Linked DNA regions of Homo sapiens. The gene in region 1 interacts genetically with each later gene. Each region holds a gene or a part of one and is shown on either strand. Other genes may lie near its edges. The genes, in order: EP300, SLC30A5, SEC24B, IGF2BP1, NPRL3, TRAPPC13 and RAB2A.

The links.
Region 2: changes in EP300 (region 1) and SLC30A5 together harm fitness less than expected from each alone (positive genetic interaction), as found in Homo sapiens cells (one large-scale study listed by BioGRID).
Region 3: changes in EP300 (region 1) and SEC24B together harm fitness less than expected from each alone (positive genetic interaction), as found in Homo sapiens cells (one large-scale study listed by BioGRID).
Region 4: changes in EP300 (region 1) and IGF2BP1 together harm fitness less than expected from each alone (positive genetic interaction), as found in Homo sapiens cells (one large-scale study listed by BioGRID).
Region 5: changes in EP300 (region 1) and NPRL3 together harm fitness more than expected from each alone (negative genetic interaction), as found in Homo sapiens cells (one large-scale study listed by BioGRID).
Region 6: changes in EP300 (region 1) and TRAPPC13 together harm fitness more than expected from each alone (negative genetic interaction), as found in Homo sapiens cells (one large-scale study listed by BioGRID).
Region 7: changes in EP300 (region 1) and RAB2A together harm fitness less than expected from each alone (positive genetic interaction), as found in Homo sapiens cells (one large-scale study listed by BioGRID).

What each region holds. Positions count from the first base shown.
Region 1 is NC_000022.11:41,099,092-41,102,591, reverse strand, and holds part of EP300 (histone acetyltransferase p300), read right to left. Parts: intron 1-3,500. UniProt on the Homo sapiens protein: Functions as a histone acetyltransferase and regulates transcription via chromatin remodeling. Acetylates all four core histones in nucleosomes. Histone acetylation gives an epigenetic tag for transcriptional activation.
Region 2 is NC_000005.10:69,118,014-69,121,513, reverse strand, and holds part of SLC30A5 (proton-coupled zinc antiporter SLC30A5), read right to left. Parts: intron 3,016-3,500; coding exon 2,886-3,015; intron 1-2,885. UniProt on the Homo sapiens protein: Together with SLC30A6 forms a functional proton-coupled zinc ion antiporter mediating zinc entry into the lumen of organelles along the secretory pathway.
Region 3 is NC_000004.12:109,538,106-109,541,396, reverse strand, and holds the end of SEC24B (protein transport protein Sec24B), read right to left. Parts: intron 2,905-3,291; coding exon 2,801-2,904; intron 1,837-2,800; coding exon 1,722-1,836; 3' UTR 501-1,721; downstream 1-500. UniProt on the Homo sapiens protein: Component of the coat protein complex II (COPII) which promotes the formation of transport vesicles from the endoplasmic reticulum (ER).
Region 4 is NC_000017.11:49,038,885-49,042,384, forward strand, and holds part of IGF2BP1 (insulin-like growth factor 2 mRNA-binding protein 1), read left to right. Parts: intron 1-1,072; coding exon 1,073-1,207; intron 1,208-2,493; coding exon 2,494-2,616; intron 2,617-3,357; coding exon 3,358-3,493; intron 3,494-3,500. UniProt on the Homo sapiens protein: RNA-binding factor that recruits target transcripts to cytoplasmic protein-RNA complexes (mRNPs). This transcript 'caging' into mRNPs allows mRNA transport and transient storage.
Region 5 is NC_000016.10:86,674-90,173, forward strand, and holds part of NPRL3 (GATOR1 complex protein NPRL3), read right to left. Parts: intron 3,230-3,500; coding exon 3,040-3,229; intron 2,218-3,039; coding exon 2,025-2,217; intron 198-2,024; coding exon 32-197; 3' UTR 1-31. UniProt on the Homo sapiens protein: As a component of the GATOR1 complex functions as an inhibitor of the amino acid-sensing branch of the mTORC1 pathway.
Region 6 is NC_000005.10:65,628,027-65,631,526, reverse strand, and holds part of TRAPPC13 (trafficking protein particle complex subunit 13), read right to left. Parts: intron 2,060-3,500; exon of another isoform or gene 1,940-2,059; coding exon of another isoform or gene 1,187-1,939; exon of another isoform or gene 599-1,186; intron 1-598. Other genes in the region: SHLD3 (shieldin complex subunit 3), read right to left, coding at 1,187-1,939.
Region 7 is NC_000008.11:60,593,487-60,596,986, reverse strand, and holds part of RAB2A (ras-related protein Rab-2A), read right to left. Parts: intron 1-3,500.

The DNA.
Region 1 (3,500 bases):
TGCCCCATCCATTAAATGGGTAAAATGGAAAGTCTAAATTCCTGTATTATAAGCCCTCCATGATTGGCCCCCTTGCTCACCTCTACAGTCAAGTTTTTGGCTATTCTACCAGTCAGACAGCACTCACAGGTTCCCAGAACAGGATATACCTGGCCTCACACAGTCTCCTTTCTAGCCTGGGCTCATTTTTACTAATCCTATCTCTATCTGTGAGATCCCAAAATCAGACACAATTCCTCAAAGACAGCCACCAGGATAACTACTGGGTTAGGTTCTCCTGTTCCTCCCACTATATACGTACTTCCCAAATACAATGCTGATCACACCAGACTCCGTGAATGCCAGTCTTCTTCCCTTATCTATAAACTCCAGGAAGGAAAGAAGGAACAATGTACAGAGGATAAGTTCCTGGCATACAGAAAATGTTGGCCTAATACAGAATAACTGCCATCTTGTCAACTCTTCTACGCCAGTATTCTTCAAATTATGGCTCAAAAGCCAACAGTGGGTCATAAAAATCAATATAGTAGGCTGCAACCAGTACTAAAAAAAAAAAAAAAAAGAAAAGAAAAAAAAGCAACAGAAAATATGAGAGTATATTACAAGTAATAAGGGTAAGTATTCTTGTGCATTCTTTGAAACAGAGTCTCTAGTGCTACAAGTTAAAGGTAGTTCTTCCTTAAGTGTTGTAAAAAAATTCTTTGGAGCACTGCACTGCTACTTTTCTTCTTCCTCCTTTATAAGAAAGTTTCTTAGAGGCAGGCATAGTGGCTCACATCTGCAATCCCAGCTACTCAGGAGGCCGAAGCAGGAGGATAACTTCAGCCTGGGCAACACAGCAAGACTCCATCTCAAGAAAATTTATTCTTTAAGACCCAGGTGGCTGGGCACGGTGGCTTACCCCTGTAATCCCAGCACTTTGGGAGGCCGAGAAGGGTAGATTATGAAGTCAGCAGATCGAGACCATCCTGCCTAACATGGTGAAACCCCATCTCTACTAAAAATACAAAAAATTAGCCGGGCATGGTGGCGGGTGCCTGTAGTCCCAGCCACTAGGGAGGCTGAGGCAGGAGAATGGCATGAACCCAGGAGGCGGAGCTGGCAGTGAGCCGAGATCGTGTCACTGCACTCTAGCCTGGGTGACAGAGCTAGACTCCGTCTCAAAAAAAAAAAAAAAGATCCATGTAAGAAAATGAAAAATAGAAAAAATTATGCTTAATTGGCCAGGCACTGTGGCTCTCGCCTCTAATACCAGCACTTTGGGAGGCCGAGGTGGGCAGACTGAGGTCAGGAGTTCGAGACCAGCCTGGCCAACACGGTGAAACCCTATCTCTACTAAAAATACAAACATTAGCCAGGCATGGTAGCAGGTGCCTGTAATCCCAGCTACTTGGGAGGTTGAGGCAGGAGAATAGCTTGAACCCAGGAGATGGAGGCTACAGTGAGCCAGGATTGCACCACTGCACTCCTGTCTAGGAAACAGAGTGAGACTCTGTGTCTAAAAAGAAGAAAGAATATGCTTAACACAGTTCTTTATCAAGAAGCCATTCTTAAACATTTCTAACAAGAACAATGTTTTCCATTTTCTCATTATGCCTTAACTATCTGCTGATTTTCATTTCTATTACTTACGTATACAAGACATCTTACATGATAGGATATATAAGATGTCTTGTATACGTGACATGATAATATATATGATATATATATACGTGACATGATACAAGATGTCATGATACTATATATATATGGTTGTCCCTTGGTATCTGCTGGGAATTGGTTCCAGAATCCACTCCCTCCACTGCAGATACCAAAATCTGAGGATGCTCCAGTCCCTGATATAAAGGGGACATGTAGTATTTGCATATAACCTACACACACCCACCCATATACTTTGAATTCTTTCTGGATTATTTACAATACCTAATGCAGTGTAAATGCAACATAAATAGTTGGTGCACTGTATTGTTTAGGGAATAATGACAAGAAAATAAAGTCTGTACATGTCCAGTACAGATGCAACCATGGATTTTTTTCCCCTAAATATTTTCAATCTGTGGCTGACTCCACAAACACGGAACCCTCAGATACGGAAGGCTAACTGTACAGTATTTTTCCATTTTAAGCTCTGTTCCTATATTCTTATACTCCTAGAAAACAACATTTGGATAGATGACATAAGGCTTACTCTTAAGACTCCTCTATGAACATCATGCACTTGGCTTTCTCTTTATCCAGTCTATCTATACAGGAGTTCATCCTTACCCCGTTTCATTTTCTGCCATTTCAAACACCTGTGGTACAAAAATATTACAAAGAAAACTGCAGAAATAAACACTAATTTTTGTTGTTTTAGAAACAGAGTCTTGCTATGTCACCTAGGCTGGAGTGTACAGTGGTGTCATCATAGCTCACTGTAACCTCAAAACTCCTGGGCTCAAGAGATCCTCACACCTTAAGCCTCCCAAGAAGCTAGGACTACAGATGCATGCCACCATGCCTTGCTGACTTTTTAAATTTTTTTTCTAGAGATGGTGGGGGGATGGGGGGTCCCACTACATTGCCCAGGCTGGTCTTGAATGCCTGGCCTCAAGCAATCCTCCTGCCTCAATCTCCCAAAGTGCCAGGATTACAGGCGTGAGCCACAACAATGTTTTAAACTGTGCGCCATTCTGAGTAGCCTGATGAAATCTCACCTGACCGGGTAGTGAATCTCCCCTCCGTCTAATGTATTCACCTGTATAAACTACCAGCCATTTGTCACTTAGTAGCCATCTCAGTTATCAGATTGTCAGACTGACTATGGGGCAGGGCAATGCTTGAGTTTTAAGTAACCCTTATTTTACTTAATGACAGTCCCTAAGTCCAAAAGTAGCAATGACAGCTATATGGATATGCCAAAGAGAAGCTGTAAATTGCTTGAAGGTGAAAGTTCTTGACTTAATAAGGAATGAAAAAAAATTGTATGCGGAGGTTACAAAGATCAAATCTATACATGAAATTGTGAAGGAAAAAAATTCGTGATAGTTTTGCTGTTGTACCTCAAACTGCAAACATCACAGCCACAGTGCATGACAAGTGATTAGTTAAGATGGAAAAGGCATTAAATTTGTGTGTGGAAGACACGGACAGAAACGTGTTCTGACTGATGACAATTATATTCACTACTATACAGGGTTTCAGGTATCCACTGGAGATCTTGGAATGTATCCCGCAAGGATAAGGGGGGACTACTGTATATCCACGAAAAACAAAAACAGGCCGGGCGCGGTGGCTCATGCCTGTAATCCCAACATTTTGGGAGGCCGAGGTGGGTGGATCACGAGGTCAGGACTCCCTGTCTCTACTAAAAATACAAAAATTAGCCGGGCATGGTGCTGCGCAGCTGTAGTCCTAGCTACTCCGGAGGCTGAGCAGGAGAATCGCTTGAAGCCGGGAGACGGAGGTTGTCATAGGCCGAGATCACGCCACTGTACTCCAGCTTGGGCAACAGAGCAAGA
Region 2 (3,500 bases), on another chromosome or scaffold:
AAGAAACATTTTAACTTTCAAATATCAAGCAGAATTGGTAAGTAGAGGAATTTGGACTTATTTCAATTAAGAATGGTATGTACTTGGTTTATGGTTTATGTATAAATAAATGATGCAAAGTTTTGTTTTGTTTATTGAAGAGTTTGAAAGTACTGCTTACTAGGGCAAGTATACACTGTACCTGAAATCTTTATATTGCTAGGTAAATTTGAACAGTTTATATGCCAACAATTATAATTTATTAATGAGCAGATTCCAAATATGGTCTTATTATGTCTTAAACACAGTAAAATTTTCCAAAGTAAAACAAGTATAATAAAAAGGAAACATACAATAGTAATCTCGCATTTATTTAAATTAAAAACAAATTTTTTTCTTTGGTAGAGACAGGGTCTATGTTGCCCAGGCTGTCCTCAAACTCCTGGGCTCAAGCGATCTTCTCACCTTGGCCTCCAAAAGTGTTGGGATTATGGGATTACAGGCATGAGCCACTATGCCTGGCCTCTCATTTTTTTCTTAACAAAGTGAATGAAATTACTTTAATTTAATGGTGCCACAATAATACTCCAAAGGATAAACAAAGTTACTTATCCTTGATTATCTGCTCTTACAAAATGATCTTGAATAGTAGTAGCTCAGGGTGTTAATTTGCCTACATCTACAATTTAAAGCAATCCATTTGTTTTATAAAAGGAAAATATAAATATGAGAAGGACAAATACTTTTAATTACTTTTCAAAAGTAGTAAGAGATTTACTTTATTAAATGTGTAGGGAGGTTATTTACTTCTTCCTGATTCGGACCATTTGACTCCAGATTTTAAAATTTCATTAGGCTTTATAAGCTGGTAGATGGTTAATGACTTTGAATGAAACCAAGTACTGCTTACAGAGACTCCATCATCTCATAAGTACTCCTTCTCCCCTACTGAAAAATACTTCATCATTGTGTATTTTATCAGGAAAATAAAAATGTAGAAGATGAAAGTCCCCTATAATTCTACCACCAAGGGTTAGTCACGCTTAAAATGGTGTATTTTCCATCTGTGTACTAACATACATACACATAACACCCTTTAAAACCAACAATGTAATCATAATACTATTTTACAATTTTTTTTTTTTCATTTTGAGACAGAGTTTTGCTCTGTCAACCAGGCTGGAGTGCAGTGGCATGATCTCGGCTTATTGCAACCTCTGCCTCCCAGGTTCAAGCAATTCTCCTACCTCAGCCACCCAAGCAGCTGGGATTACAGGCGCCCGCCACCATGCATGGCCTGCAATTTGTTTTTCACTAGTACATCTCGTAAATATTTTCAGGCCAGTATATACAGATATATCTCATTCTTTTCAATAGCTCTGTAATATTCTATTATATAGATAACAAATTTATTTAATTACTTTTTTCACTGGTGGACAGTGAATTGTTTCCATTTTTTCACTATTATAAATAAGGGTACAATGAATCATGTACTACTTTTTTTTTTTTTTTTTTTTGAGGCAGAGTCTCTCTATCACCCAGGCTGGAGTACAGTTGGTGCAACCTGGGCTCACTGAAGCCTCTGCCTCGTGGTTGAAGTGATTCTCCTGCCTCAGCCTCCCAACTAGCTGGGATTACAGGTGTGCGCCATCATGCCCGGCTAATTTTTGTATTTTTAGTAGAGATGGGGTTTCACTATGTTGACCAGACTGGTCTCAAACTCCTGACCTCAGGTGATCCAACCACCTCGGCCTCCCAAAGTGCTGGGATTACAGGCGTGAGCCACTGCACCCGGCCAGAGTCATGTACTTCTATATGTTTGTGTGAATGTTTATGTATGATAAATAGTCAATATCAAAGGATACAGGCACTAAAAAATCCAAAAAAGTCTATTTTTCCAAACTGTATTATAGAAACATTTTACTCATGTATGCTTCCACCAGCAAGAGCCAGAGCTGCTTTTTGTCATTTAACAACTGATTTCCTACGACAAGCCAGGTGCTAGAACTGAACTTAAGAGTTAATAATATGTAATTCAGGTCCTGAAGATACTTACATATCTTAATTGTGGAAGAATGACAAATTAAACAACTGCAACTCAATGTTGCTAAAAGAAGAATGCACAAAACATAATGAGAATACTGAGAAAAGGAATCTAACAAACTTTGTGGAGAGAAGAGGGGGATTAAAAGAAAGTATTTCCAAAAATTAGGCAGGCGTGGTGGCAGGCGCCTGTAGTCCCAGCTACTCGGGAAGCTGAGACAGGAGAATTGCTTGAAAAAAAAGAAAAAAAGAAAAGAAAAAAAGTATTTCACATAAGCAAAATCTTGATGGAGGCTGAAGGGCAGAAGTAAGGAAAGGACATGCCAACTACAAGAAACAGCACATGTAAAGCTTTGGTGGTACAGGGAGAACATTAAAAGTTGCTATAGCTGGCCGGGCACAGTGGCTCATGCCTGTAATCCCAGCACTTTGGGATGCCAAGGTGGGAGGATTGCTTGAGGTCAGTAGTTCGAGACCAGCCTGGCCAACATGGCGAAACTCTATCTATACAAAATATACAAAATTTAGCAGGGGGTGGTGGCACATGCCTGTAATCCCAGCTACTCAGGAGGCTGAGGCACGAGAATCGCTTGAGCCTGAGAGGTGGAGGCTGCAGTGAGCTGAGATCATGCCACTGCACTCCAGCCTGGAAAACAGAGACTCTGTCTCAAAAAAAAAAAAAAAAAAAAAGAGAATTTCTAAGAGGGAGCAGTATAAATGTAAACAGCAAGATAGGAAGTTATGTTGATATAAGTAAAAAATAAAACCTTCTTAGAGCAATAACTGCAAACAATTAAACTTTAGGATAGAAAAAACTATGTAAGTATGACTAGAAATCCAAATAGGAAAATAAAAAGACTTACTGTTAACATGTGAGTGTCTAATTCTGGAGGATCAATCAATCTAGCCACTGACTCCATAAACACAAAAAACGCTATTACTATTAGAAAAAGTCCATTAATAAATCCAGACAGAATTTCTATTCGGCCGTACCTAAAAACATAGAACATTTTTCAGAAAAGGAAAAGGACAAATATTTTTAAAGTATAAACTTTATAAATGAGGAAACAAGTCCAAATTTTCATACTACTAAGTAATTAATAATAGAAAATTAGCAATATTTTAAATATCATATTAATGCCTGGAAGGTCCTTCATATATATATACATATATATATATACACATATATATACACGTTATATATGAATATATATACGTTATATATGAATATATAACATTTTAACGAATATATACATTTGTTAAAATGTTATATATTCATCAAAGTCCTTCTTTACTCTCTTTTTTTTTTTTTTTTGAGACAGAGTCTTGCTCTGTCACCCAGGCTGGAGTGCAGTGGCACGATCTTGGCTCACTGAAAGCTCCGCCTCCTGGGTTCACACCATTCTCCTGCTTCAGCCTCCCGAGTAGCTGGGACTACAGGTGCCTGCCACTACGCCCGGCTAATTTTTTTTGTATTT
Region 3 (3,291 bases), on another chromosome or scaffold:
CCCCATGTTGCCCAGGCTGGTCTCGAACCTCTGGGCTCAAGCCATCCGCTTGCTTTGGTCCCTCAAAGTGCTAGGATTATAGGCATGAGCCATCATGCCTGGCAGAGTCTTTTTCCTTCCAAAGTTTGTTGATGGGGACTTTCATAGTGTACAGAATAAAATTATGTCCCATAATCTAATGGATCCTTAAGAGTTTTTTATAGTAAATAAGTTGTTAGTGAATGAGAGGTTTCTTGATCAGAAGAAAATCACTTTCAAAATTCAAGATGGCAATCTTAAAGTCAATTAAATAAATGGGATAGTGATATGTGTTACTAAAATTTTCTTGCTATAAGTGTGCAGGCAAAAATATCTAATGTAAATAAGAAAGACAATTTAAGATTATACTTACTAGTTAAGAATATTTTTGAAAGTAGCACCATTTGTTTTAGAATACAAACAGAATAAGTACTTGGTAATGTCCACAGACTAATGAAAGTGTATTGATTCATATATATTACTTTTTTTTTTTTTTTAAGATGGAGTCTCACTCTGTTGCCCAGGCTGGAGTGCAGTGGCGTGATCTTAGCTCACTGCAACCTCAGCCTCCAGGTTCAAGCGATTCTACTGCTTCAGCCTCCTGAGTAGCTGGGATTACAGGTGCCCGCCAGCACCCCTGGCTAATTTTGGTATTTTTAGCAGAGATGGGGTTTCATCATGTTGGTCAGGCAGGTCATGAACACCTGACCTCAAGTCATCTGCCCACCTTGGCCTCCCAAAGCGCTGGGATTACAGGCGTGAGCCACCGCGCCTGGCCTGATTCATATATATTACTAACTGAAATGCAGTATCACTGCACTTCCCCAATTAGTAAATTCAATACATCCTGTATGTAAAAAAACCCACCAATCCCCACAAAAAACCAATCAAACAAAAACCCCAAAAAATCACCAAACCATACTGTCAAGCGAAATAGTTTTAATTAGTAGGCTGATCATAAATAAATCTACATAAAAGATTTAACAGAATTACAAAGAGTTTTGTGTTCCTTTGTGGACTCAATTCATAATATGCATTAGTCAACCTCATTCTCTAACTGTGACAAAAAGAGTTGTCATCCAACAATGCAGCACAGTTTAAGCAATTCATATGCTATAGTTACATTTTTACATTTTCTTTACAAATGTAACATTTATGTACATTATATATAGATTTTTTTCTATAGTTCATGTACTGAAACTCTATTGTTTTTACAGAGAAAATGTTGAATTCATTTAATGAATAAGAAACATTCCTTGTTAAAAAGTAATTCATATAAACAAATAACACGGTACCAATGCCTTTTGGCATCTCTTGCCAGAGTTCAAGTCCAGAAATGTTATATTAATTATAAGAAAAAAGAATTTATCTAATTTTACATTATGACATATCATTCCACATAGCTACATAAATTTGCCAGCTTGCAATGAACAGAGCACTGTACTGCCATACTACTGGAAATGTGTAGAAACCAATTCAAAATATACTTGGTGAAACAGCATCATCGTTACCATTAATTTGAGTTGAAAAAGATCTGTCAAGTTCTTTCTTCCCCTTTACTTTTTACCAAAGCCTCAGACAGAGTGCTGTGCGTTGCATCTTGTATTAACAAATGCCTTCATTTCAAATTTCTCACGCGCTTCTCTGACAGATTATGCTTTACCTAGGTTATAGATCTTTTTCTTATTCAATTTTATTCTACTTCACTTACAAATCTGCTGCTGAACATGAAGCAAAAATTCATAGTAAGAAAATGCAGCCTCTGTCCGGTCTTCAATCAAATGCTGAAAAAATTCTGCTTTGGCAGGACTCTCATCTCTGGAAGAAAGAAAAGGGCATTTGTCTAAACGTATTTAAAAGCCCTGATTTCACCACTTTGCAATCTAGCTCATAAAATTACACTTGTATCCTGTAAATTTATACAAATAAAATAAAAGTGCATATTTCTAAAAATAGTATATATTTTAAAAATTACTGGGCTGGCAGCTCACACCTGTAATCTCAGCACTTTAAGAGGCTAAGGTGGGAGGACTGCTTGAGCCCAGAAGTTTAAGACCAGCCTGGGCAAGATAGAAAGATCCCCATTGCTTAAAAAAAAAAAAAAAATTTTTAAAATTGGCCGGGCGTGGTGGCTCACGCCTGTAATCCCAGCACTTTGAGAGGCCGAGGTGGGTGGATCACCTGAGGTGAGGAGTTCAAGACCAGCCTGGCCAACATGGTGAAACCCTGTCTCTACTAAAAATACAAAAATTAGCTGGGCGTGGTGGTGGGCGCCTGTAATCCCAGCTACTTGGGAGGCTGAGGCAGGCGAATCGCTTGAATCCAGGACGCAGAGGTTGCAGTGGGCTGAGATCGCACCATCGCACTCCAGCCCGGGTGACAAGAGCGAAACTTTGTCTCAAAAAAAGAAAAAAAAAAAATTAAAAATTAGCCAGGTGTGGAGGGAAGTGCCTGCAGTCCCAGCTACTCGGGAGTCTGAGTTGGGAGGATTACTTGAGCATGGGAGGTCCAGGCTGCAGTGAACTGTGATAGCAGCACCCCTGCACTGCAGCCTGAGTGACAGAGTGAGACTCTATCTCAAATTAAATAAAGAAAGAAAGAAAATTAAAAATTACTAATATATGGAGATGTCAGAAAATGGAATACAGGGGATTTAAATCAAGTAACAACATTTTACCATCAGAATATATTTTGCTACTATTTAAAGTTTGCTTTGAAGACAAGCAATTCCACAGACTACATAGGAAAGACAACTTCATAATTAAGTTACAAAAGTACTTACTTTACTATGTGAAGGATTGGACTTAATGGTCTGCTGTCTCTAAGCCAAGTTATGAAGGATCTGGCTCTTTCTGATGAAAGTGTATCTAGCTCTGGAAGATGTGTCTGGTAAAAGAAATACAATTAGGAAACTTTCCTTTCTCATAGACTTCAGCAGTAATAGAACAAAATCATGATTCCTACCATCACCCCCAACTGCCAGCACTCTATTTCTTAGCCTCAACAGCAGCAACTACACAAATAAAATTTAAACTGTTGAAAAATCTGTTTATATTTTTCTGGATAAGTCAATAAAATATGTGCAATGACAAGTATGTCACTGACATTTTAACTGACTATATTTTTCTTGGTAAGTCAATAAAACATAAACAACGATTAGCATGTCACCAGTATTGTGTGGCGGCTTTATGTTTCTTCTAGAGGAAATGTTCAAATGAAGGGGGATACCATTAAATTCCAAATTCCCTTAGCAATTATATATGATTATATCCT
Region 4 (3,500 bases), on another chromosome or scaffold:
TTTTTTTTTTTGAGACAGAGTTTTGCTCTGTTGCCCAGGCTGGAGTGCAGTGGTGCGATCTCAGCTCACTGCAACCTCTGCCTCCCGGGTTCAAGCAATTCTCCTGCCTCAGCCTCCCGAGTAGCTGGGATTACAGGCGCGTGCCACCATGCCCAGCTAATTTTTGTATTTTTAGTAGAGACAGGGTTTCACCATGTTGATCAGGCTGGTTACGAACTCCTGACCTCGTGATCCGGCCGCCTCAGCCTCCCAAAGTGCTGGGATTAAAGGCGTGAGCTACCACACCCGGCCTTTTCTCTAATCTTTATATCTGATCAGTGTACTCAGTGGCAAAGAACAGGTCATATTATGTCCTTATCATAGTAAATCTTGTTATTTACTTTGAGTTTGGGGCACTGTGTCTTCTCTTTATATTTGTTTCAAGGGGGACATACGGAATTCAAGCGGAAATGCAGCTTTGGAGCTGTGGGCTGGTAATTCCCACCCCTGCATTTGTGTCATAGGCTGTGTTCTTGTCCCCAACCACTGCTTGCTTATTTATTTATTTTTATTTTATTTTTTGAGGCAGAGTCTCACTGCGTCACCCAGGCTGGAGTGTAGTGGTGTGATCTCAGCTCACTGCAGCCTCCTCCCAGGTTCAAGCAATTCTTGTGCCTCAGCCTCCTTAGTAGCTGGGATTACAGGTGTGCACCACCACACCCAGCTAAATTTTTTGTATTTTTAGTAGAGGCGGGGTTTCACCATGCTGGCCAGGCTGGTCTCAAACTCCTGGCCTCAAGTAACCCACCCGCCTCGGCCTCCAAAAGTGCTGGAATTACAGGCGTGAGCTCCCGTGCCTGGCCACCAACCACCTGTGGATTGAGACACTGCTGGTCTGAGACAGAATCCACAGTAACAGACGGGTCATATTTCTCCAGTCCTTTCATTGCCCTTCCCAAAGTTGTACTTGATTGTCCTTGTTTCAAGAAGAGCAGGTTCTATGCCTTTGACTGAGGAGGGGTAGTGGGGTGGGGAGCCTGAAGTACTGGTATCACTGGGGACAACTAACCAGCCTTGTCCTTGTGGCCCCCAGGATAGACGTGCATAGGAAGGAGAACGCAGGTGCAGCTGAAAAAGCCATCAGTGTGCACTCCACCCCTGAGGGCTGCTCCTCCGCTTGTAAGATGATCTTGGAGATTATGCATAAAGAGGCTAAGGACACCAAAACGTAAGTCTCCAGCTTTTCTTGGATCTTCAGGGTCTGCTAGTCCAGTTGAGCCTCCCCAACTCAACTTTCAAGCTTTTATACAGACATATAAGAAATACAGTCAGCAATTGCACAAAAAGATGTAAACTGAGAAATAAAATCTTTCTTCTTACAGGACTTTGTCACCTAGGCTGGAGTACAGTGGCATGATCTCAGCTCACTGCAACCTCTGCCTCTGGATCTCAAGGGATCCTCCCGCCTCAGCCTTCTGAGTAGCTAGGACAACATGCATGCACCACCACGCCTGCCTAGTTTTTTGTGATTTTTGTAGAGATGGGGTGTCGCCATGTTACCCAGGCTGGTCTTGAACTCCTGGACTCAAGTGACCCACCCAGCTCAGCCTCCCAAAGAGCTGGGATTACAGGCGTGTGCCACCACACCCCATCCCTTCTTATTCCTGTCGTATGACCTCCTAGAAATTCTGTGCACTCACAGGTGTGTGTATATTGTGTCTGCGTGCCTGCATGTACGGATATGTGTGCCTGTGTGTATTCACTTGTGCGTGTATGCACATGTGTTTTAGCTCAGAGAGAATCACACTGAACAGGCTGTTCTATACTTTTTTCATTTTCTGTATCAGCACATATATTAGTACATATGGACAGACCGCATTATTTTTATAGCTGCATAGAATTCCACAGTATAGCTATTCATAGTTCATGTAATCAATCTCCTATTTCTTGATGGGTGTTTAAATTGTTTTAAACTTTTCCTTATCAGAAAACAGTGATGCAAGGAATCTGCTTACACATGTTCCTTTACACACTTGTGCTGTTTAAAATAGCTTTATTGGCTGGGCACGGTGGCTCATGCCTCTAATCCCAGCACTTTGGAGGCTAGGAGTTCTAGACCAGCCTGGGCAACATAGTGAAACCTCACCTCTACAGAAAATAGAAAAATCAGCTGGACGTGGCGGCCTGTGCGTATAGTCCCAGCTACTCGGAAGGCTGAGAAGGGAGGATCGCATGAGCCCAGGAGGTCAAGGCTGTGGTGAGCCTTGATAGTGCCACTGCATTCCAGCCTGGGTGATAGAGTGAGACCCTGTCTCAAAAAATAAAACAAATTGGCTTTATTGATGTTCAATTGATGTATAATAAATCATACATATTTTTAAAGTATGCAGTTTGATAAGTTTTGAGATGTTTTACTTGGAAATGCCAAGTCTGGGGTGGCATGGTGATTGAGTCTTCATGAAGCCCACAATTGAAGGAACTCTTGTCTTCCACTTCTTCCTTTGTCTTCCCAAGGGCTGACGAGGTTCCCCTGAAGATCCTGGCCCATAATAACTTTGTAGGGCGTCTCATTGGCAAGGAAGGACGGAACCTGAAGAAGGTAGAGCAAGATACCGAGACAAAAATCACCATCTCCTCGTAAGGCTCTCTTCTATTTCCCTGTTTATGAGTGGGGGATGCATGGGGGCCAGGGTCAGTATTTCATCATGGAACCTTGATATGTGCTCTTTTAAAATGGGTGCTCCTTCTGCCTCTTGAAGAAAAACAGTCGAAGTGGTAAAGAGCATTTAAAAAATCCCTGTAAGGACTGGATCTGCCCATTCCCACTGCCATATGGGGCAGGGGTGTTGTAAGGTGCTGCCTCTACAGTCCACGTCCAACCACTTCACAGCCCTCTTTCCCTGTGGCTCGTGGACAGCCTGCAGCTAGGAGCCAGGGATTCAGGGCTTTAGGCTTGTCTGTCACTGTGAGAAGTGACCTTGGCCCTTTTCTGTCTGTGGTGGGCTGCTCCTGCAAGCAGTGTGCTTCGTTTCATCAGAGACTAACCTGTGGGCAAAGTAATTGCTCTTGTCCAAAAAGGTATAGGACATGGATTATGTAGAATCAATGGGGAAACTTGGAGGCACAACCATAATCTGAGATTGGATCCATTGCTAACAGAGGAGTTTGAGTTAGGTGTTGGCATCTCCCTCCATCTTACCCCCTGCCCTGGTTACAAACTGGGAACACCAAAGACTGGGGTTGCAGAGTTATTTGCCAGAAGTTGAATAGGCTGCAGAAATGGTGGGCCTGTGACTCAGCTGGCCTCTCGTCTTTGTTACTGCCGGGGCCTGGTCCTGGCCTGCCAGTGAAAGGACACAACTCTGCTCTTTCTGCCAGGTTGCAAGACCTTACCCTTTACAACCCTGAGAGGACCATCACTGTGAAGGGGGCCATCGAGAATTGTTGCAGGGCCGAGCAGGAAATAATGAAGAAAGTTCGGGAGGCCTATGAGAATGATGTGGCTGCCATGAGCGTGAGTG
Region 5 (3,500 bases), on another chromosome or scaffold:
ACCCCAGCAGCCTTCCGCCCTCCGCCTGGGCTCAGGGGAGCAGAGCCTGGAAGACGGCAATGACAGGGTCCTCGTGGGTGGTCACCACCAGCACGCTGCGGAACTTGTCAAACAGCATGAGCAGCTGGGAGCGCCGCGTGTTCTCGTTGTACATAATCTCCTCCAGGTGGTGGCGGCCGCGGAAGTAGTGAAGGAGCCTGGAAGGGATGGGTGGGTGTGAGCCCAACCTGACACCAGCCCCCAGAGGCCTCTGCTGAAGAGCCACTGCTGGGAATCAGCTCTGAGCTGCCCACAGGCCTGAACAGAGCTGGTGGTGAAGGCCAGGGAGGCAGCCACCACAGCCCCCCAACAAGGGTGGGCAGGCCTCCTGGACCCCATGCCCACCACGGTCCCGCTGACCACCAGGTGGGCGGAGTGGGTTCAGGACGGCAGACGGCTGTTCAAACCCAGAGGTGCCCAAGCCTGCGTCCTGATGTTGGGACCAGGGTTCTGCTGGTGGCTTCTTTTTCGTGCTACAGTGAGTCCCACGTAGCTCTGGAGCCAAATGGTCACTGCTTTTTTTTTTCCTTTTTTTGAGAGACGGAGTCTCACTCAGTCACCCAGGCTAGATTGCAGTGGCTCGATCTCAGCTCACTGCAACCTCCCGCCTCCCAGATTCAAGCGATTCTCCTGCGTCAGCTTCCCAGGTAAGCTGGGACTACAGGAGTGCGCTACCACACCTGGCTAATTTCTCTCTTTTTTAGTAGAGACAGGGTTTCATTATATGTTGGCCAGGCTGGTCTCGAACTCCTGAACTCAGGTGATCCACCCACCTCAGCCTCCCAAAGTGCTGAGATTATAACCGTGAGCCACTGTGCCCAGCCTGCTTTTTTTTTTTTGAGACGGAGTCTCGCTCTGCTGCCCAGGCTGGAGGTGCAGTGGCGCGATCTGGGCTCACTGCAACTCCCGCCTTCCCGCCATTCTCCTCCTCCCGCCAAGCTCCGCCTCCCGCCTTCAGGCCATTCTCCTGCCTCAGCCTCCCCAGTAGCTGGGACTACAGGCGCCCGCCACCACACCCAGCTAATTTTTTGTATTTTTTAGTAGAGACGGGGTTTCACCATGTTAGCCAGGATGATCTCGATCTCCTGACCTCGTGATCCACCCACCTCAGCCTCCCAAAGTGCTGGGATTACAGGCATGAGCCACCGCGCCTGACTTTTTTTTTTTTTTTTTTTAATGTCACCATCATTTGGAAGGTCACTGCTTTAGGGTGCTTTCTGCAACTCAGGCTGGCACAGAGGAGGCTAGGATGCAGGTGAGACCTGGACCAGCTGCTCAGAAGAGTTGCAAGTGGTTCTCTCGAGGGCCGAGTGTGGTTCTCAACCGGAAACTCAGTCCCTGACAACCCGACCACTCCCGGGAAACTATGCCCCTGCACTGTCCCCCAAGTCAGGGTGGGGCTGACAGAGACCACTGAGCCACATCACCTTTAACATGGGGGACCCTGGATGCCCGCAGGGCTTACAGTCCTGGGCAAACCCCTGCCAAGTCCCATGAGGGTGAGAACTTGGCACTTAAATTAGCCGGGCGTGGTGGCGGGCGCCTGTAGTCCCAGCTACTCAGGAGGCTGAGGCAGGAGAATGGCGTGAACCCGGGAAGCGGAGCTTGCAGTGAGCCGAGATTGCGCCACTGCAGTCCGCAGTCCGGCCTGGGTGACAGAGCGAGACTCCGTCTCAAAAAAAAAAAAAAAAAAAAAGAACTTGGCACTGCCTCTCAAGGGAAAAGGAACATCTAAGAAGTACTGGAGAGAGAAGAGTCCGAAAAATAGGCATGCCAGGCCCATGGCCCGGCGTCTTGGTGACAAGCCGAACCCTCAGGCCTGGGCAGTGGCACCTGCCCCTACACACCTGAATGCAGAGACTCCATCTCGAACAGGGCCCCATCTGTTCTCAGTGGATTTGGTGGTTCTGTTGCGTACGTCCCTATCCACTTTCTGCCCTGACCCTGCAACTGGCCCCAGTCCCAACGGGTCAACCTACACCCACCTGGCAAACATGCGGAGGTCCTCAGGGTTCTGGGCTGCGGGTACACTGAGGATGGCTGCGCGTTCATGCTCCGACAGGCTGGCCAGCAGGTTCTCCGTCATCCTCTGGTTCAGTGGCGAGTCCCCGCTGGGAAGTAGCTCTGCGCTGGAGTTGTCCATGCTGGGGCTGGTGAGGGTCATGTCATCGCTGCTGGCTGTGGGGGACATGGGTCAGGGTGACCAAGTGGAATTCCAGGACACCCAGGGGAACAGCGAGGGCAGAGCCAGCAGCCAGCCTCCAATGACACCCCTAACTCCTACAAGGGTTAGGGTACATCTGCCTGCAAGCATTCGCTGCTGCCCCACCTCCTGGGTGTGACACGCCCCTCATACGGCTGACTTGGGAAACGGGTAGCCTCCCCTCTGGGGGCAACCTCAAGGGACCTGAACAGAGGTGCGATGTGTGCCCCACAAACACCCCAAGGTGGGCCTGGGCATCCTGTCCCTCACCCAGGATGGAGGACAAAGCACCCTGGGCAGGTGGGGTCCTCACATGAAGCATGAAGCCTACAGCCAGACCTCAGCCAAGGGGGGACTTTCAAAGTCTTCCACCCCCTTCCTTCCCCAAGCCTGGGGACCGGGGACCTGGGACCTGGCAACAGGCTGCTGCCCTCAAGCCACACTGGCCATGACGGCTCTTCTGGGGCGCAGAGGTGTCAGCTGTCCTGGTAGTGGTATGAGATCCTGCTCTGCTCCCAGGCTGGGGCAGAGATTCCAGCACTGATTTGCTGGGCTGGGAGCTGCCCCTAATTCTAGCAAGCCTGCTGAAGAGCCCGGAGACAGAGCTGCCACCTCAGAGTCACGGTGGTGCTAGGAGACAGGAGAGGTGTCTCCACGGGGGACACGAGGCACGTGCATGTGCGTGTGCAGCTGTGTGGAGGCCCCTCATCACTCACAGCACCACCCACGTTGAGCCTCCTGGATGCCACCCCCAAGCGTCTCCCCTGACTACCACAGCGGTGCCCTGGGGGTCCTACTTGGGGAGCCAAAGCTGAGGGCGTTGGGCGTGCTGAGGCTGCGACCGCCGACCCGGGCAGTGAAGGGGACGTCGTCCTCTCGCGGACGGGGCTCCTCCTCGCTGGGTGAGGCCATCAGGCAGACATAGGTGTGCAGCTGGATGAGAAGCCGGCGCTGCAGCATCCACACCACCATCTGGATGAGCTGGGTCTGCGGGTGGCAGCAGGTGAGGCTGGTCCCCCTCCCCACTCCAACTTCCTCCTGGGTGATCAGGGAGCCATGGCCCTAGACATGGCCACAGCACGCTCCCTGTGCTGACGCACAGGCAGAAAGGCCCTCTTCTCAGAAAGGGAGCCCCCAGCTGCCAGCCAGCTCTGCAAGGCCCGCTCACCCTCCTGGGAAGGGAGAGGGGCCAGGGGAACATCTGGATCACACCTGCACAGGCTCCCACCACACACCGGGGCCACCCAGCATCTGGCTG
Region 6 (3,500 bases), on another chromosome or scaffold:
GGCAGGGGGTGAGGACTAAAAAACTACCTATTGGGTATTATCCTGATTACATGGGTGACAAAACTATTTGTACACCAAACCCCTGTGGCACACAATTTACCCATATCACAAATCTGCACATGTACCCCTTGAACCTAAAATAAAAGTTAGAAAGAAAAAAAAATTAGTGGGCTTCCATTTTAAGCAACCTCAGCCATCTCAGGCTATGAAGAATCCCTCTGAAGGGAATGTTTACCATGCATTATCAAGCTCCTACCATGACAGGCACTGAGCTTCAAGGTAAACATGTCTATATTCCTAGTTAAGTGCAGTCTTATTTTTCTTAGGGAGCTGGTGTGTTTAATAGTAGTAATGACATGTAAGCTGTGTGAGGGCAAGGTCCATGTCTGTCTCCTTCCCTAGTATATCCTAGCACCTAGTGCAAAGTAGGCATTTAAATATGTTAAACAAACATACATGCTTCTACAAAACTTTTACTGTTTTAATCCCTTTGAGCATTTTTATGAGGTGATGTGTAAAACCAATTACAAGATTATGCTTATGGGGAACCTACAATGACTCCAATCATCAGCCAAGTAATAATTAGCACTAACTATCATTAATACTGAATTATCTGTATTAGAAGAAATAAACAATCATTCAACATTTGATACTTTCCTTCAAAACAGGATACATTATCGTTTTAGGCAAAGTATACATTTTGTATCGTTGTTTGAAAACAGCCTATCAATTGTTATTACATATCTTTGGAAACATCATTATAAATCTAGACTAGTCTCCCACTTTGAACTACATTCATGCCACATAAATAGCACTCCAAAGAGAATTGTTTCGAGTTTTATTTTTTAAAAAATTACACTTGAGGTAAGGAAAAAAATACAGTAAAATTAGATTTTAGAGATTAACCAAAATCCAAACTATACAACTTAATTCATGACTAATTCAATCACAGTTTGTAACAAAAGGAACAGAACATTTTTACCTTCAAATTCAGTGTAAACAATAATTTATCACATTTAAAAGAAGGCTGCCAATAAGCAGAACTCAGCAATTTCTTGACTTAATTGACAAGCCTAGGAATTCTAAAAAGTCATTAAAAATTTTAAAACCTGTAAAAATTATTTTATCTATTTCAATCCATATTCATTTCATTCAGAATATTCTTTTTGACAATCAGTGGAATTCATTACATACTAAAAATAACACCATATTTATGCACAAATAAATTAATTTTTCCAGTAAGAGCTAATCTTCCTTTAAGAAGACTTCCCACATATTCACAATACATAATATCACAGAACACCCATATTTGGCCTAAATGCCTCTGAATTGTAGCATTACAAGATGGAAGTTCATTGTGCCTAATAATTTGATTGAGTTTTGTCCAAATGTCTTCCAGAGTTTGGCTGTTACAAATAGTGTGTTCTATTGTCCATCTTGCTCTATAAAGTGAGTGTAAATTTAGTGCCTTTAAACTATCTTGCAATTTTTTAGACAAAGGAGAAACGTTTTTAGTACAATTATTGCTGGGAAGGGAAATACTCCAAGATCTCCTCTTGTGCTGTTTTCCCTTTTCTGATTGTTTACCCAGATTTCCAGAATTAGTCTGTTCCTTCAGTGTGTGTGACCAGGTTAAATGCTGCTTTTTCAAGCTAGGTTGAAACTCCAATAGATCTACTGTGCAATCATAACTGTGTGACTTAGCATCATGTTCTGAAATGGTTAAGTACTGTTTCACATCTTCAGCTGCCTCTTCAGAAATCACAGGTGGTGATCTTTTAGGTCTGAGTGGAAGCTTGGACCCATCATATGGAAACCAAGGTATAAATCTTGATAGCGGACGAGTAGGAAAGTCTTGAATTGCTTTTTCTGCAATTTTTGGCAGTTGTGTGGGATCACTCTCACATGGTCGATAATGTAATATTACTTCTGTAGTCATTCTGCAGTAATCCAGTTACTCTTAGTGATGAGAAAATTTCTTAGTTGAACTCCTCAGAGCTAGAATGTTAATTTATTATTGCAAGATTGTCTCTCTTGCCAAATCAGAGGGAAACAGGACCTAAAGTAGAAGTATTGCAAAGAATAAGATATGGTAGGGATACCCTGCCTACCAACAGGCAGGGAGAAAAGGAAAAACAAAAAACAAAAACCAATCCCAATGTGGTATTTTACCAAAGTGCTATTGGTAAATGTGAATGTAATCTACAAACCTGAAAATTCTTTCTCTTACCAAAATAAGGGATCTGAACTAGATGCCCTATAAAATCACTTCCTGCCTAAAAACGCTAGTAGTCAACATGTTTAACTCAATAGATATAAAGGACTTGGAAGTATCGATATTAATATATTAAGTAATAATAGTCTTAAAACTTTAGCAGAAACAAAGAGTAAATGAATGATTCTTAAAATATTGTTTTCATATGAATTAACAAAAAATGTAATATTTAAAAATTTGAGGCAACTAAATTGAGGACAATGAAATCACTGTAAATTCTAATCCAACATGGTGAAAACCCATCTCTACTCAAAATACAAAAAAAAATTAGCTGGGTGTGGTGGCGCATGCCTGTAGTCCCAGCTACTAGGGAAGCTGAGGCAGGAGAATAGCTTGAACCTGGGAGCCAGAGGTTGCAGTGAGCCAAGATCATGCCACTCAGCCTGGGCGATAGAGCAAGACTTCATCTCATTAAAAAAAAAAAAAATTCTAATCTGTCTGGAAGAAAATTAATCATTTTATACTTAAAATTATGTAGATTTGCCAGGTGCGGTGGCTCATGCCTGTAATCCCAGAACTTTATGGGGGCCAAGGCGGGCAGATCACGAGGTCAGGAGCTTGAGACCAGCCTGGCCAACATGGTGAAACTCCGGCTCTACTAAAGATACAAAAAATAGCCGGCTGTGGTGGCGTGTGCCTGTAATCCCAGCTACTCAGGAGGCTGAGGGAGGAGAATCGCTTGAACCCGGGAGGTTGAGGTTTGCAGTGAACTGAGATCGCGCCATCGTACTCCCATTGCACTCCAGCCTGGGTGACAGGGCAAGACTCCGTCTCAAAAAAAAAAAAAAAATTATATGGATTCCACCAAACAAATATATAGATAGAATATTTGATGATTTCACGTCATTCTCTGTAGTAAAAACTAAAACCATTAATATGGTTTAACTTTGCTAATATGGTTTAACCAGGCTAAGAACCAGTTTTGTGACACTGTCTTCTCCTCATAATCCAGGCAATTAAACAGTATGGAGACCCCAATACCATGGCTTTTGAATTCCAGTTTGGAAGAGAACAAGAAGTCTAGACTCCTATTTTTTTCTCTTAGAGCACAGAAGTCCTCAAGTTGCCCCAAATTAAGTCACTGATAATAAATTCCAGCATATGGTGCATAGGCTCAAGAATGGAGCCTTCCAATATCTGCAAGTTAGGCTTGCTAATCAGGCCCAAAGCTGTAAGAGCCATAAAACAGACTTTTTCACATCCTAACAACAGCAGAAAAAAATAA
Region 7 (3,500 bases), on another chromosome or scaffold:
GTAAAAGTGTTCCTATTTCTCTACATCCTCTCCACCATCTGTTGTTTCCTCACTTTTATTTTTTTTGAGACAGAGTCTCACTCTGTCGCCGAGGCTGGAGTGCAATGGTGTGATCTTGGCTCACTGCAAGCTCCGCCTCCTGGGTTCATGCCATTCTCCTGCCTCAGCCTCCCAAGTAGCTGGGACTACAGGCGCCTGCCACCACGCCTGGCTAATTTTTTATATTTTTAATACAGATGGGGTTTCACCCTGTTAGCCAGGATGGTCTCATCTCCTGACCTTGTGATCCGCCCACCTCAGCCTCCCAAAGTGCTGGGATTACAGGCATGAGCCACCGCGCCCGGCCGTTTCCTCACTTTTTAATGATTGCCATTCTAACTGGCATGAGATGGTATCTCATTGTGGTTTTGATTTGCATTTCTCTAATGACCAGTAATAATGAGTTTTCATATGTTTGTTGGCCGCATAAATGTCTTCTTTTGAAAAGTGTCTGTTCATATCCTTCGCCCACTTTTTGATGGGGTTGTTTTTTTCTTGTAAATTTGTTTAAGTTCTTTGTAGATTCTGGATATTAGCCCTTTTGTCAGATGGATAGATTGCAAAATTTTTCTCCCATTCTGTAGGTTGCCTGTTCACTCTGATGATAGTTTCTTTTGGTGTGCAGAAGTTCTTCAGTTTAATTAGATCCCATTTGTCAATTTTGGCTTTTGTTACCATTGCTTTTGGTGTTTTAGTCATGAAGTCTTTGCCCATGCCTATGTCCTGAATGGTATTGTCTAGGTTTTCTTCCAGGGTTTTTATGGTTTTAGGTCTTATGTTTAAATCTCTAATCCATCTTGAGTTAATTTTTGTATAACGTATAAGGAAGAGACTTCTTCTTTTCTATTGTGTGCATTTAATGATATACATTTCCCTCTCGTAACACTGTTTTAGCTATTTTCCACAAATTGGTATGTTGTATTTTCATTCAGTTCAATGTGTTTTTTGTAATTCAAGACTTGCTCACTGACACACAGAAGCGTACTGTTTAGTTTCCAAGTATTTGTAGATTTTCCTATTTTCTGTTAAACTGATTTCTAGTTTAATTCCATTTTGTTTGGAGAATACATTCCGTATGATTTCAATACTTTAAAATCTATTGAGGTTTATTTTATGGCCCAGGACACGGTCTATCTTGGTATATATTCTGTGAGCACCTAAGGGATGCTGAAGTCTCCAACCGTAATTGTGAATTTCTCTATTTCTCCTCGCAGTCTATCAGTTTTTGCTTCACATATCTGGTACACGCATGTTTAGCACTGTCACATCTTTCTGGAGGGCTGATTCTTTTATCATTATATAATGTCCCACTCTGATAATTTTTTTCTGCCCTTAAGTTTATGTGATATTAATATAGCTACTCCTGTTTTCCTTTGATTAATATTTGTATAACTTTTCCTATCATTTTATTTTCAACCTAACTGTACTGTTGTATTTGGAGTGAGTTTCTTATAAATACCATATAGCTAAGTCATTGTTTTTAAAATTCTCTCTGCTAATCCCTTTTGATTTGTGTATTTTGACCACCAACATTTAGTTATTGATATATGAGGGCTTACATCTGACATTTTACTTTGTTTTCTATTTTCCTTCTCCTGCCTTCCTGTGGGCTAATCAAATCCCTTTATTCCCCATGGCTTATAATATTGTGGAATACACTGATAATCACATCAGACAGTGGTTACTTGTTTATACTTCAAACATCAAACATAATTTGCAAGACTTGAAGAAAAAAGTCTATCATATTTATCCATATTTTTGTTTCTTATGTTTTTTTCTTCCTTTATGGTGTTCTAAGATTCTTTCTTCAATCATTTCACTTCTATTAGAAAACTTCCTTTAGCCATTCTTTTATGCAAATCTGCTACTAATAAATTCTTGGTTTTTCCTTCTCTAAGAATGTCTTGATTGCACCTTCATTGCTAATTCTTTTTTTTCTTTGCTGGGTAAAGAATTCTGGGCTGATAGTTCTTTTCTTTCTGCTCTTGCAAAACACTGTGCTACGTATGTTTATTGTGGCAGTATTCACAATAGCAAAGACTTGGAACCAACCCAAATGTCCATCAATGGTAGACTGGATTAAGAAAATGTGGCACATATACACCATGGAATACTATGCAGCCATAAAAAAGTTGAGTTCATGTCCTTTGCAGAGACATGGATGAAGCTGGAAACCATAATTCTCAGCAAACTATCACAAGGACAGAAAACCAAACACCGCATGTTCTCACTCATAGGTGGGAACTGAACAATGAGAACACTTGGACACAGGGCAGGGAACATCACACACCGGGGCCTGTTGGGGGTTGAAGGGCTGGGGGAGGGATAGCATTAGGAGAAATACCCAATGTAAATGATTACTTGGTGGGTGCAGCAAACCAACATGGCACATATATACCTAGGTAACAAACCTGCTCGTTGTGCACATGTAACCTAGAACTTAAAGTATAATAAAAACAAACAAACAAACAAAAATCACTGTGCTATTTTCTCTGTCCTCCATGGTTTCTGATGAGAAATCTGCTATCATTAGAACTGTTTTTCCCCTATACGTAGGGTGCTATTTTTTGCTGCTTTCAAGATTTTTTTTTCTGTCTTTCACGTTCAGAAATTTGACCATACAGAGGTTCGTCATCATGTGGATTTGTCTGGGTTTAACCTCTTTGGGGCTGTCTTCAATCTGTAGGTTTATATACTTTTTGCCACATTTAAGAAGTTTTCAGCCATTATTTCTTTGAGTATTTTTCAGAGCCATTCCTTTTTCCTCTCCTTCTAGGACTTATGATGCATCATATAACGTCAGCTTTTGTTACAGTCCTATAAGTCCCTGAGGTAGTGTTCATTTGTTTCCTCAATTTTCTCTCTGCAGTTTAGACTAAGTAGTTACTATTGTTCTATCATCCAGTTCACTATTTCTTTCCTTTATCTCCATTCTGCTGTTGAGTCCATTCACTAAGTTTTTTTTTCTAGTGTACAAAGAGCTTTGAAAGAGTTTTAAAATTTCAATTATTGTATTTTTTTTTATTTTAAAATTCCTATTTGGTTCTTTTTTTTATCTTGCATTTCTTTTGCTCAGATTGTTTGTTTGCTAAGACTCTTCTGTTTCAAGCATGTTCCTTGTTTGTTGAGGCATTTTAATGATTGCTGCATTAAAATCTTTGTAAGATAATTCAAACACCACTGTCATTTCACTGTTGGCACCTATTATCTTTTTTTCATTCAATTTAAGATCTTCCTGGTTCTAGGTATGATGAATGATTTTCTATTGAAACATGGGTATTTTAGATACTATGTTATGAGACTCTGGGTCTTATTTAAACCACTGTTTAGTTGGCTTCCTCTCACTCCACTCCAACAAGGGAAATGGTGGTGGTAGGGTGCTACTTCATTACTGCCTGGGGATTGTGGAAGCAGAGCCACAATTTTTTCTGTGATGTTTGGCTACAGTAGAATGGTTACTT